Linked DNA regions of Homo sapiens: region 1 is linked to region 2. Evidence: fine-mapped expression QTL. A gene starts in region 2. The other region holds a variant in brackets. All regions are shown on one strand. Distances are from middle to middle.

Region 1 (5,373 bases), 130 kb before region 2:
GGACTTGCTTTATGAATCTGGGTGCTCCTGTATTGCATGCATATACATTTAGGATAGTTAGCTCTTCTTGTTGAATTGATTCCTTTACCATTATGTAATGGCCTTCTTTGTCTCTTTTGATCTTTGTTGGTTTAAAGTCTGTTTTATCAGAGACTAGGATTGCAACCCCTGCCTTTTTTTGCTTTCCATTTGCTTGGTAGATCTTCCTCCATCCATTTATTTTGAGACTATGTGTGTCTCTGCACATGAGATGGGTCTCCTGAATACAGCACAATAATGGGTCTTGACTCTTTATCCAATTTGCCAGTCTGTGTCTTTTAATTGGGGCATTTAGCCCATTTACATTTAAGGTTAATATTGTTATGTGTGAATTTGATCCTGTCATTATGATATTAGCTGGTTATTTTGCCCATTAATTGATGCAGTTTCTTCATAGCATCAACGGTCTTTACAATCTGGCATATTTTTGCAGTGGCTGGTACTGGTTGTTCCTTTCTATGTTTAGTGCTTCCTTCAGGAGCTCTTGAAAGGCAGGCCTGGTGGTGACAAAATCTCTCAGCATTTGCTTGTCTGTAAAGGATTTTATTTCTCCTTCACTTATGAAGCTTAGTTTGGCCGGATATGAAATTCTGGATTGAGAATTCTTTTCTTTAAGAATGTTGAATATTGGCCCCCACTCTCTTCTGGCTTGTAGGGTTTCTGCCAAGAGATCTGCTGTTAGTCTGATGGGCTTCCCTTTGTGGTTAACCCGACCTTTCTCTCTGGCTGCTCTTAACATTTTTTCCTTCATTTCAACTTTGGTGAATCTGACAATTATGTGTCTTGGGGTTGCTCTTCCTGAGGAATATCTTTGTGGTGTTCTCTTTATTTCCTGAATTTGAATGTTGGCCTGCCTTGCTAGGTTGGGGAAGTTCTCCTGGATAATATCCTGCAGAGTGTTTTCCAACTTGGTTCCATTCTCCCCATCACTTTCAGGTACACCAATCAGACGTAGATTTGGTCTTTTCACATAGTCCCATATTTCTTGGAGACTTTGTTCATTTCTTTTTACTCTTTTTTCTCTAACCTTGTCTTTTTGCTTTATTTCATTAATTTAATCTTCAATCACTGATACCCTTTCTTCCACTTGATCGAATCGGCTATTGAAACTTGTGCCTGCGTCACAAAGTTCTCGTGCCATGGTTTTCAGCTCCATCAGGTCATTTAAGTTCTTCTCTATGCTGTTTATTCTAGTTAGCCATTCGTCTAACCTTTATTCAAGGTTTTTAGCTTCCTTGCGATGGGTTTGAACGTGCTCCTTTAGCTCAGAGAAGTTTGTTATTACCAACCTTCTGAAGCCTACTTCTGTCAATTTGTCAAAGTCATTCTCCGTCCAGCTTTGTTCCATTGCTGGCAAGGAGCTACTATCCTTTGGAGGAGAAGAGGCGCGCAGGTTTTTAGAATTATCAGCTTTTCTGCTCTTGTATCTCCCCATCTTTGTGGTTTTATCTACCTTTGGTCTTTGATGCTGGTAACCTACAGATGGGGCTTTGGTGTAGATGTCCTTTTTGTTGATGTTGATGCTATTCCTTTCTGTTTGTTAATTTTCCTTCTAACGTCAGGTCTCTCAGCTGCAGGTCTGTTGGAGTTTGGTGGAGGTCCACTCTAGACCCTGTCTGCCTGCGTATCACCAGTGGAGGCTGCAGAACAGCAAATATTGCAGAACAGCAAATATTGCTGCCTGATCCTTCCTCTGGAAGCTTCGTCTCAGAGGGGTACCCGCCTATATGAGGTGTTTGTCGGCCCCTCCTGGGAGGTGTCTCCCAGTTAGGCTACATGGGGGTCAGGGACCCACTTGAGGAGGCAGTCTGTCCGTTCTCAGAGCTGAAACGCCATGCTGGGAGAATGACTGCTGTCTTCAGAGCTGTCAGACAGGGACGTTTAAGTCTGCAGAAACTGTCTGCTGCCTTTTGTTCAGCCATGCCCTGCTCACAGAGGTGGAGTCTATAGAGGCAGTAGGCCTTGCTGAGCTGCAGTGGGCTCC[G/T]CCCAGTTTAAGCTTCCCAGCCACTTTGTTTACTTACTCCAGCCTCAGCAATGGTGGGCACCCCTCCCCCAACCAGGCTGCCACGTCGCAGTTCGATCTCAGACTGCTGTGCTAGCAGTGAGCAAGGCTCTGCGGGCGTGGGACCCGCCCAGCCAGGCATGGGAGAGAATCTCCTGGTCTGCTGGTTGCTAAGACCATGGGAAAAGCTCAGTATTTGGGCGAGAGTGTCCTGTTTTTCCAGGTACAGTCTATCCCGGCTTCCCTTGGCTAGGAAAGGGAAATCCCCTGACCCCTTGTGCTTCCCGGGTAAGGCGACACCCCGCCCTACTGCGGCTCATCCTTCATGGGCTGTACCCACTGTCCAACCAGTCCCAATGAGATGAACCAGGTACCTCAGTTGGAAATGCAGAAATCACCCATCTTCCGTGTCAATCACACTGGGAGCTACAGACTGGAGCTGTTCCTATTTGGCCATCTTGGAATAGCCCCAACATATTTTTTTAACCATGTAAATGTGGTTAACATTTTTTTCAAGCAGTAGAAGAGGATATATAATGAAATTTAAGTCTCCTTCCCACCCTCAGACCCTCCATTCCCTTCTTCAGAAGGGAAAGCTGAATAATTTTTTTTTTTTGAGGAGGAGTCTCACTCTGTTGCCCATGCTGGAGTGCAGTGATGGGATCTCAGCTCACTGCCTTCCATGTTCAAGTGATACTCCTGTCTCAGCCTCCTGAGTAGCTGGGATTACAGGCCTGCACCACCAAACCCGGCTAACTTTTGTATTTTTAGTAGAGAGGGGGTTTCACCATGTTGGCCAGGCTGGTCTTGAACTCCTGACCTCCAGTGATCCACCCACCTCAGTCTCCCGAAGTGCTGGGATTACAGGTGTGAGCCACTGTGCCCAGTCTGAATAATTTCTTAGATATTCTTCTGTGCATATGTAGGATTAAAAAAAAAAAGAATAGAAGAATACCATAATGTCATTTTGTACATTTCTTTTGAAAGTTAACAACAAGTCTTGGAAATCATTCCATATCAGTAAATGCATGTTTACCTCACTCTTTTTTTTTTTTACAAATATATAATAGTCCACCAATGAATATACTATCATTTGATTTTCCAGTCCTCCTAATGATGGAGATTTGGGCTATTTGCTAATTTTCCTAGTGCCACGATGAACCACTCCATCTCTCTGTGTTTGCACACACGTCTGCGGGTGTTTCCGGGGTCTGCTCCTAGGAGAGGTGTTGATGGTTGAAAGGATAGGAGCATTTTTATTTTTGCCAAATTTTGAGAAAGCCTTTTTTTTTTTTTTGAGAAAGGAGAAGGAGCAGCCTTTGAGGAGGGTGAACTGTGAGGCTTCTGAGGCTCAAACAAGAATGCATGAAGGCACTCCTTAGGAAACAGAGGATGGGTGAGCAGGAGGTGGAGAGTTCAGTGTGATGATGAAGATGAACGTGGTAAAACCCAGGGAGGGAAATTAGCAAAGGGAGGGATATAGGGTGGCCCCTGCAGGCCTTTATCCCTTCTGCATCCAGGAGAGGAGGCACGACTGTTTAAAGATGGACTCTGCCAAGCCTTTGATACCTTGCTTCTTCTATTCTTAAGTAGAATGTTAACGCTGCCAGGTAAAAGAGTTAACAAGTTACATCCTTGAGCAGACACTTTTCAAAGAAGATACACATGCAGGCCGGGCGTGGTGGCTTATGCCTGTAATACCACCACTTTGAGAGGCTGAGGTGGGTGGATCACAAGGTCAGGAGTTCGAGACCAGCCTGGCCAATATGGTGAAACCCCATCTCTACTAAAAATACAAAAATTAGCCGGACATGGTGGTGGACGCCTGTAATCCCAGCTACTCAGGAGGCTGAGGCAGGAGAATTGCTCGAACCTGGGAGGCGGAGGCTGCAGTGAACCGAGATTGTGCCATTGCACTCCAGTCTGGGCAACAGAGAGAGACTCCATCTCGAAAAAAAAAAAAGAAAATATACGTGCAGCCAACAAGCATATGAAAAAAACCTCAATGTCACTGAACTAGAGAAATGCAAATCAGGCCAGGCACAGTGGCCCACACCTGTAATCCCAGCACTTTGGGAGGCCGAGGCGGGTGGATCACTTGATGTCGGGAGTTTGAGACCAGCGTGGTCAACATGACAAAACCCCATCTCTACTAAAAATACAAAAATTAGCCGGGCGTGGTGGCACACCTGCAATTCCAGGTGTAATTCAGGAGGCTGAGGCATGAGAATCACTTGAACCTGGGAGGTGGAGGTTGCAGTGAGCAGAGATTGCACCACTGCACTCCAGCCTGGGTGACAGAGCAAGACTCCATCTCAAAAAAAAAAAAAAAGGGAAATGCAAATCAAAACCACAATGAGATGCCATCTCATGCCAGTCAGAATGGCCATTATTAAAGAGTCAACAAATAAGCTGAGTGTGGTGGCTCATGCCTGTAATTCCAGAACTTTGGGAGGCCGAGGCAGGTGGATCACCTGAGGTCAGGATTTTGAGACCAGCCTGACCAACATGGTGAAACTGCGTCTCTACTAAAAATACAAAATTAGCTGGGTGTAGTGGCAGGCGCCTGTAATCCTAGCTACTCGGGAGGCTGAGGCTGGAGAATCGTTTGAACCTGGGAGGCAGATGTTGCAGTGAGCTGAGATTGTGCCATTGCACTCCAGCCTGGGTGACAAGAAGGAAACTCCATCTCAAAAAAAAAAAAGAAAAAAAAAGTAAAAAAATAACAGATGTTGGTGAGGTAGTGGAGAAAAGGGGATGCTATGCATAGTTGATGGGAGTGTAAATTAGTTCAACCATTGTGGAAAGCAGTGTGGTGATTGCTCAAAGAACTAAAAACAGTACTACCATTTGAGCCAGCAATCCCATTACTGAGTATATACTCAAAGGAATATAAATCATTCTACCATAAAGACCCATGCACACAAATGTTCACTGCAGCACTATTTACAATAGCAAAGACCTGGAATCAACCTAAATGCTCATCAATGACAGATTGGATAAATAAAATGTGGTACAGAAATACCATGGAATACTATGCAGCCATAAAAAAGAACAAAATCATGTCTTTTGTGGAAACATGGATGGAGCTGGAGCCCATTATCCTTAGCAAACTAATGCAGGAACAGAAAACCAAATACTGCATGTTCTCACTTATAAGTGGAAGCTAAATGATGAGAACACATGGAAACAAAAGGGGGAACAGACACAGGTCTACTTGAGGATGGGGGATGGGAAGACAGAGAGGATCAGAAATAATAACTATTGGGCATAGGCTTAGTATCTGGGTGATGAAATAATCTGTACAACAAACCCCCATGACACACATTTAC
Region 2 (5,373 bases):
ACTAAAAATACAAAAATTAGCTAAGCATGGTGGTGCACACCTGTAATCCCAGCTACTCGGGAGGCTGAGGCAGGAGAATTGCTTGAACCTGGGAGGCGGAGGTTGCACTGAGCTGAGATTGCGCCACTGCACTCCAGCCTGGGTGACAGAGCCAGACTCCGTCTCCAAAAAAAAAAAAAAAAAAAAAAAGAGGGCCAGCACCTATCACCCAAGAAAAAAGGGACCAAAGCAAAGCCAGGAGTCCCAGCTGAGCTAATGATCCTATCAACAATTAAATGAAACACAGCCAACATAAACGTGGCTACTCACACACCATCTCGACCACTTTATTTTGTAGGTGGTACTGAGAGTGATCAGAGGCAGACGAGGACATGCTTAAATACAAGGGCAAGCCTGCCTGGTATGCTCGCTGGGAAAGCCTCAAGCCAAGACCTCAGCAACTGCTGAGGTGGTTATTTAGACTTCACACAAAATTCTGCGTTAGGAGGATACCTCCCTGACATCCACTCTTGATTTAAATCTTCCAAACAGATCAATTTGGGAGGCAGAGGCTGCTTGTGTAGGTGTTTCCATATCTATTTTGATTTGTGCTAGAAGCAATGAGCACGTCTAGAAAAAGAACAGATCTTAAGTGGCTTTCTAGCAATGATACAGGAGAGACACGTGGCCCAACCTGAGTAGCAAGACATACTCGGTGAAGGCTGAGATCACCCGAACCACTGTAGTGGCATACCTGGCTTGTCAGAGGCGACTGTATGTTTAACTTGCCATTCTTGGGAATGTCTATTCTATATCCGAGGGGAAGAAAAGCGTTGAATCCAACAATGAGGTCAGGGTGCTCGTGGAAGAGCTGCGAGACACGTCTGATGACTCCAGGAGTATCGATGCTAGAAGAAACAACGGAAGTGGGCAAAAGGGTCTTGGGAAATAAATGAAAAATATAATCTATTCCCCACTCCCTTGATACTGCCACATAAAAACCTTCTCAACAGACAACAAAGGAACCTAAAATGTGACCCACCAGGCGCAGTGGCTCATGCCTGTAATCCCAGCACTTTAGGAGGCCGAGGCAGGCAGATCACCTGAGGTCAAGAGTTCGAGACCAGACTGGTCAACATGGTGAAACCCTGTCTGTACTAAAAATACAAAAACGAACTTGGAGTGGTGGTGCGTGCCTGCAGTCCCAGCTACTCAGGAGGCAGAGGCACAAGAATCACTTGCACCCGGGAGGCGGAGGCTGCAGTGAGCCCAGATCACACCACTGCACTCCAGCCTGGGCGACAGCACGAGAATCCATCTCAAAAAAAAAAAAAAAAGTGCCCCCATGTGATAGCATCTGTACACCATGACCTATCTCCTGACTGGCTAGGCCTGAGCTCCCTGTTCCCTCCTGGTGAGAACCAGAGAATACTGACATCGCTCAGCTCCCCTAAAACACTCCAAGAATGGGTACTCGGTTCTGAAAATGTCAGGAGAGCCAACCGCAAGGCCTGGACTCCAAGAAATGGCAGGAGGCCAAAGTCCTCTAAGCAATGTGAAAACTTCCCTCATTTTGTATCAGATAGAGATGACTATGACACAGGTTTCCATCTGAGCAAACAATTGCAATGCATAAATACCAATGGTACTGCCAAGAATGGGAAAGGTGTAAGAAAAATAGGAGGGGAGAGATGGGGTCTCCCTTCTGGCTGCATTGCAGCCCAGCCCTTAGCACTGGGCTCCCGGAAGGAAACCAGGCCAGCCCCACCATGTTTCCTAAGAGGGGGCAGCAGTATGGTAAGCATGTGACTTCCAAGAATCTGAGTCAGAGGGTCTGAGTTCTAGTGACACCTCTGCCACTTAGGTGGGTCCCTTACCCACTCCAAACCTCAGTGAGTCTCCTATAAAAACAAGGGCATGATCCCAGGGTTTCCCATCTATCTGTAATCTTCCTTGATTCTGGGCCTGCAAAATCATCTCATGTGTTTTAAACGTTTTCTGTGTGCCAGCTCCCTTACTAAGCATTTTATGCGTCTTACTTCCAAGCAGGCCTGGGACCACAGTGAGCCCAGAGAAGCATCTTGAGGACAAGATTAAAGGGGAAGAGGGTGCCAAAAATTTCAATCATCAAGACAATAACATTTTACAGCGCTTGAAAATAAAAATCAAAATGGGTCCCACCAAATCTTTCATGAACAAAACTAATATAAAAATCAACATATTAAATCAAGGCAGGATTTGACTCTATGAGTGTGCACGGCCTCGCCCTCCCTGCCTCCCCCCAGATCCCTGTCCTGCTTCCAGGAATCCCCACAAAGCTCCACAAGGTGGGTACTACCCATTTCCATTTTTGTTACGAGAAGGAGCTAGGGCTCTGAGAGATTGGACAACCTGCGCAAGGTCACCCGGCTAAGGGGGCAGGCTGGAGAGGGGAGGTCTCACCCCGCTAGGCCCGATTCCGGCCCAGGGGGGTCCCCTGAGGTGGAGAGGGGCCCCGCTGGTACCTCTGGCTTTTGAACTCCTTCATGATCTCCAGGAAGCCGTTGTAGGTGGCAGGGTCGCTGCCAAAGCGGATCTTCACCTGGTCCAGATAGGTGAGGGCGTCTTCTACCTGCAGAGAGGGGGAGGGTCCCGGTGGGCCCTGGCCGCGGAACGAGGGGACGAGGGGCCGGGGTCCCTGAGGGGAAGGGGATGGGCTGGGCTTTCGGAGGGCCGAGGTGAGAGGTGAGGGGTGAGGGGTCCGGGGCAGTGCAGAGGGGAGGCCGAGGTGGGGCTGGGGCCGGGCGGGGCCTGGGTGAGGGGCGCCCGCCCGCGGGGTCCAGAAGATGGGTTCCCCGAGGGAGGGCGGGGACGCCACTCACGTGCACCGGCAGCTTCTCGTGGCCTGCGGAGCCCGAGCGACCCCAGCGGGCGCCGCTCAGCCCCCGGCCCGCGGGGCCGCCGGCACCGCTGCCACCGCTGCCACCGCCAGCGTGCGCCATGTCCGAAGTCGGAGCTGCGCCCCGCCCCGCCCCCGCCCGAGGTCCTGCCGCGCATGCGCAGCCTCCGCCTTTGGAGGCGGGGTTTGATGACGTTGAGGGGCGGTGCTCTTTGAGGGACTCTTCTGAAGACCTTCTCCTTAAGATTGGTATCATAATTAATGATTTATATAGCAGGGGTAGGCGAGCCAAGACCCGCCGCCTACTTTGTCCGGCCCCGCAAGCTCAGAATTATTTTTACATGTTTACATAGCCGGGGGAAAAATCCAAAGAAGAATAGTCTATGACCTGTGAAAAGTTTGTGAAATTCACATTTGAGGGTCCCTGAATAAAGTTTTATTAGCACACAGACACGCCCACGCGTTTACCTGGCTTCTCTGCCTGCTTTCGCCTTACAACAGAGTAGGTAGTTGCTAAAGATCCTACAGATCTGCAGACCCTGAAGTATTTACGATCTGGCCTTTTATGGAAAAAGTTTGTTGGCCCCTGCTTTATAGAGTTGACGGGACGATGAGGTATGAGCCCCCAGCGCCCTAATATAGGGCCTTGCGTGGTGAATTTTTGCTAAATGGCCTTTAAGTTAGTCCTACTCCTCCCATCTTCACTTCCCTATCCTTGGCCCCGTCACTTCCCATCTGGACCAGTTTAGGAGCCTCCTAACTCTGGTACTTTCTTTTTTTTTTTTTTTTTTTTTTTTTTTTTTTGAGACAGAGTCTCGCTCTGTCGCCCAGGCTGGAGTGCAGTGGCGCGATTTCCGCTCACTGCAAGCTCCGCCTCCCGAGTTCACACCATTCTCCTGCCTCAGCCTCCTGAGTAGCTGGGACTACAGGCGCCCGCCACTGCGCCCTGCTAATTTTTTGTACTTTTAGTGCCACCCCACCTGGCTCTAACTCTGGTACTTTCTCAGCCCTGATACTATCAAGAACTCTAGGCTGGGGATGGTGGCTCACGCCTGTAATCCCAGCACTTTGGGAGGCCGAGGCGGACGGATCACGAGGTCAGGAGATAGAGACCATCCTGGCTAACACGGTGCAACCCCGTCTCTACTAAAAATACAAAAAATTAGCCGGGCCTTGAAAAAAAGAAAAAGAAAATGAAAAAATTGGCTGGGCGCCGTGGCTCACGCCTGTAATCCCAGCACTTTGGGACGCCGAGGCGGGCAGATCACCTGAGGTCTGGAGTTGGAGATTAGCCTGACCAACATGGAGAAACCCCGTCTCTACTAAAAATACAAAATTAGCCGGGCTTTGTGGCGCATGCCTGTAATCCCAGCTACTCGGGAGGCTGAGGCAAGAGAATTGCTTGAACCCGGGAGGCGGAGGTTGCAGTGAGCCAAGATCACGCCATTGCACTCCAGCCTGGGCAACAAGAGCAAAAACTCTGTCTCAAAAAATTAATTAATTAATTAATTAAATAATAAAATAAAATGAAAAAATTAGCTGGGCGTGGTGGTGCACACGTTTAGTCCCAGCTACTCGGGAGGCTGAGGCAGGATTGCTCATGCCCAAGAGTTCAAGGCTGCAGTGAGCCATGATCTTGCCACTGCACACCCCAGCCTGGGAAGCATAGCAGTGCTTTTTTTTTTTTTTTTTTTTAAAGAGCATCTCATCTCTTAAAAAAAAAAAAACAGAAAAACAAAAAACTCCACTTTTTCCACCACTCCTTCCAAACCTCCAAGGTCTTCCTATTTCTAATGAGATGAAATCTAAGCACCTACATTGCAGGCTGTCAGAATTGGTCCTTAGGAACCTTTTCCTGCAGGATTTTCCAAGCAAACTGCCTGCCTCTGTGCAGAACTTCACACAATTGCCTGACCAACCTGGCTGCTTCCTGGTCCCAAGCATTGGCACTCACCATTTCCTTTGCCAGAAGTACTGTCATGCCTCTTTGTTATTCAGAAAACACCTATACATCCTTCTAAACGCAGCCCAAATATCCCTTTCCCTCAGGAAGTGTTCCCAGTCCCCTTCTATGTCTCCCCTCAGTCCCTTGTATTTCATATTTGTTTTGTGTCCGTCTCTAATACAAATCCCTGACACAGTCTCTCAGTCAGCATTCATCAAATAAGTGAACGTTCAATTAATGACCAAGTGCTTTCTCTTTTTATAAGTGAAGAGGTGCAGGAAAGTTGAGAGTAAATTGGCATCGAGTGCATCATTTACCAGGCACCTTGCTAAGTGTCAGGAATAGAATGGTAAAAAGGAACGCAAATTTGGCCGTTAAGAGCTTTTAGTCTCTCAGGATAGACAGGAATCTAGTAATCACACAAATGTAAAGTTTCACATGTAACAAATACTTTAAAGAGAAGGTATACATGTAACAGTTCCTAAATTTCTGTTGCTATGACTGTGTAACAAATGAGCCCTTGACAATCCCAGCACTTTGGGAGGCCAAGGTGGGGGCATGCATTGAGGCC

What was found. PIP is the estimated chance that this variant, and not a neighbour inherited with it, causes the effect. A credible set is the group of variants that fine-mapping cannot tell apart.
Region 1: its variant is the best candidate, but not a certain one, in a credible set for the expression of SIN3B in whole blood (INTERVAL, PIP 0.63).

The regions. Positions count from the first base shown.
Region 1 is chr19:16,958,177-16,963,549 of GRCh38, reverse strand. All of the region lies in intron 18 of CPAMD8 (C3 and PZP like alpha-2-macroglobulin domain containing 8), which reads left to right. Among named protein-coding and RNA genes, the nearest start is that of CPAMD8, 66 kb to the left of the region's middle. RefSeq lists enhancers at 1,652-2,209, 2,210-2,769. The variant G/T (reference allele first, on the strand shown) is at 2,024.
Region 2 is chr19:16,827,008-16,832,380 of GRCh38, reverse strand. It overlaps SIN3B (SIN3 transcription regulator family member B), which reads right to left and starts at 2,983. Exons shown (of 19, transcript NM_001297595.2): 1 at 2,841-2,983; 2 at 2,484-2,590; 3 at 734-887. The coding sequence starts at 2,960. RefSeq lists a silencer at 2,836-3,015 and an enhancer at 2,756-3,257.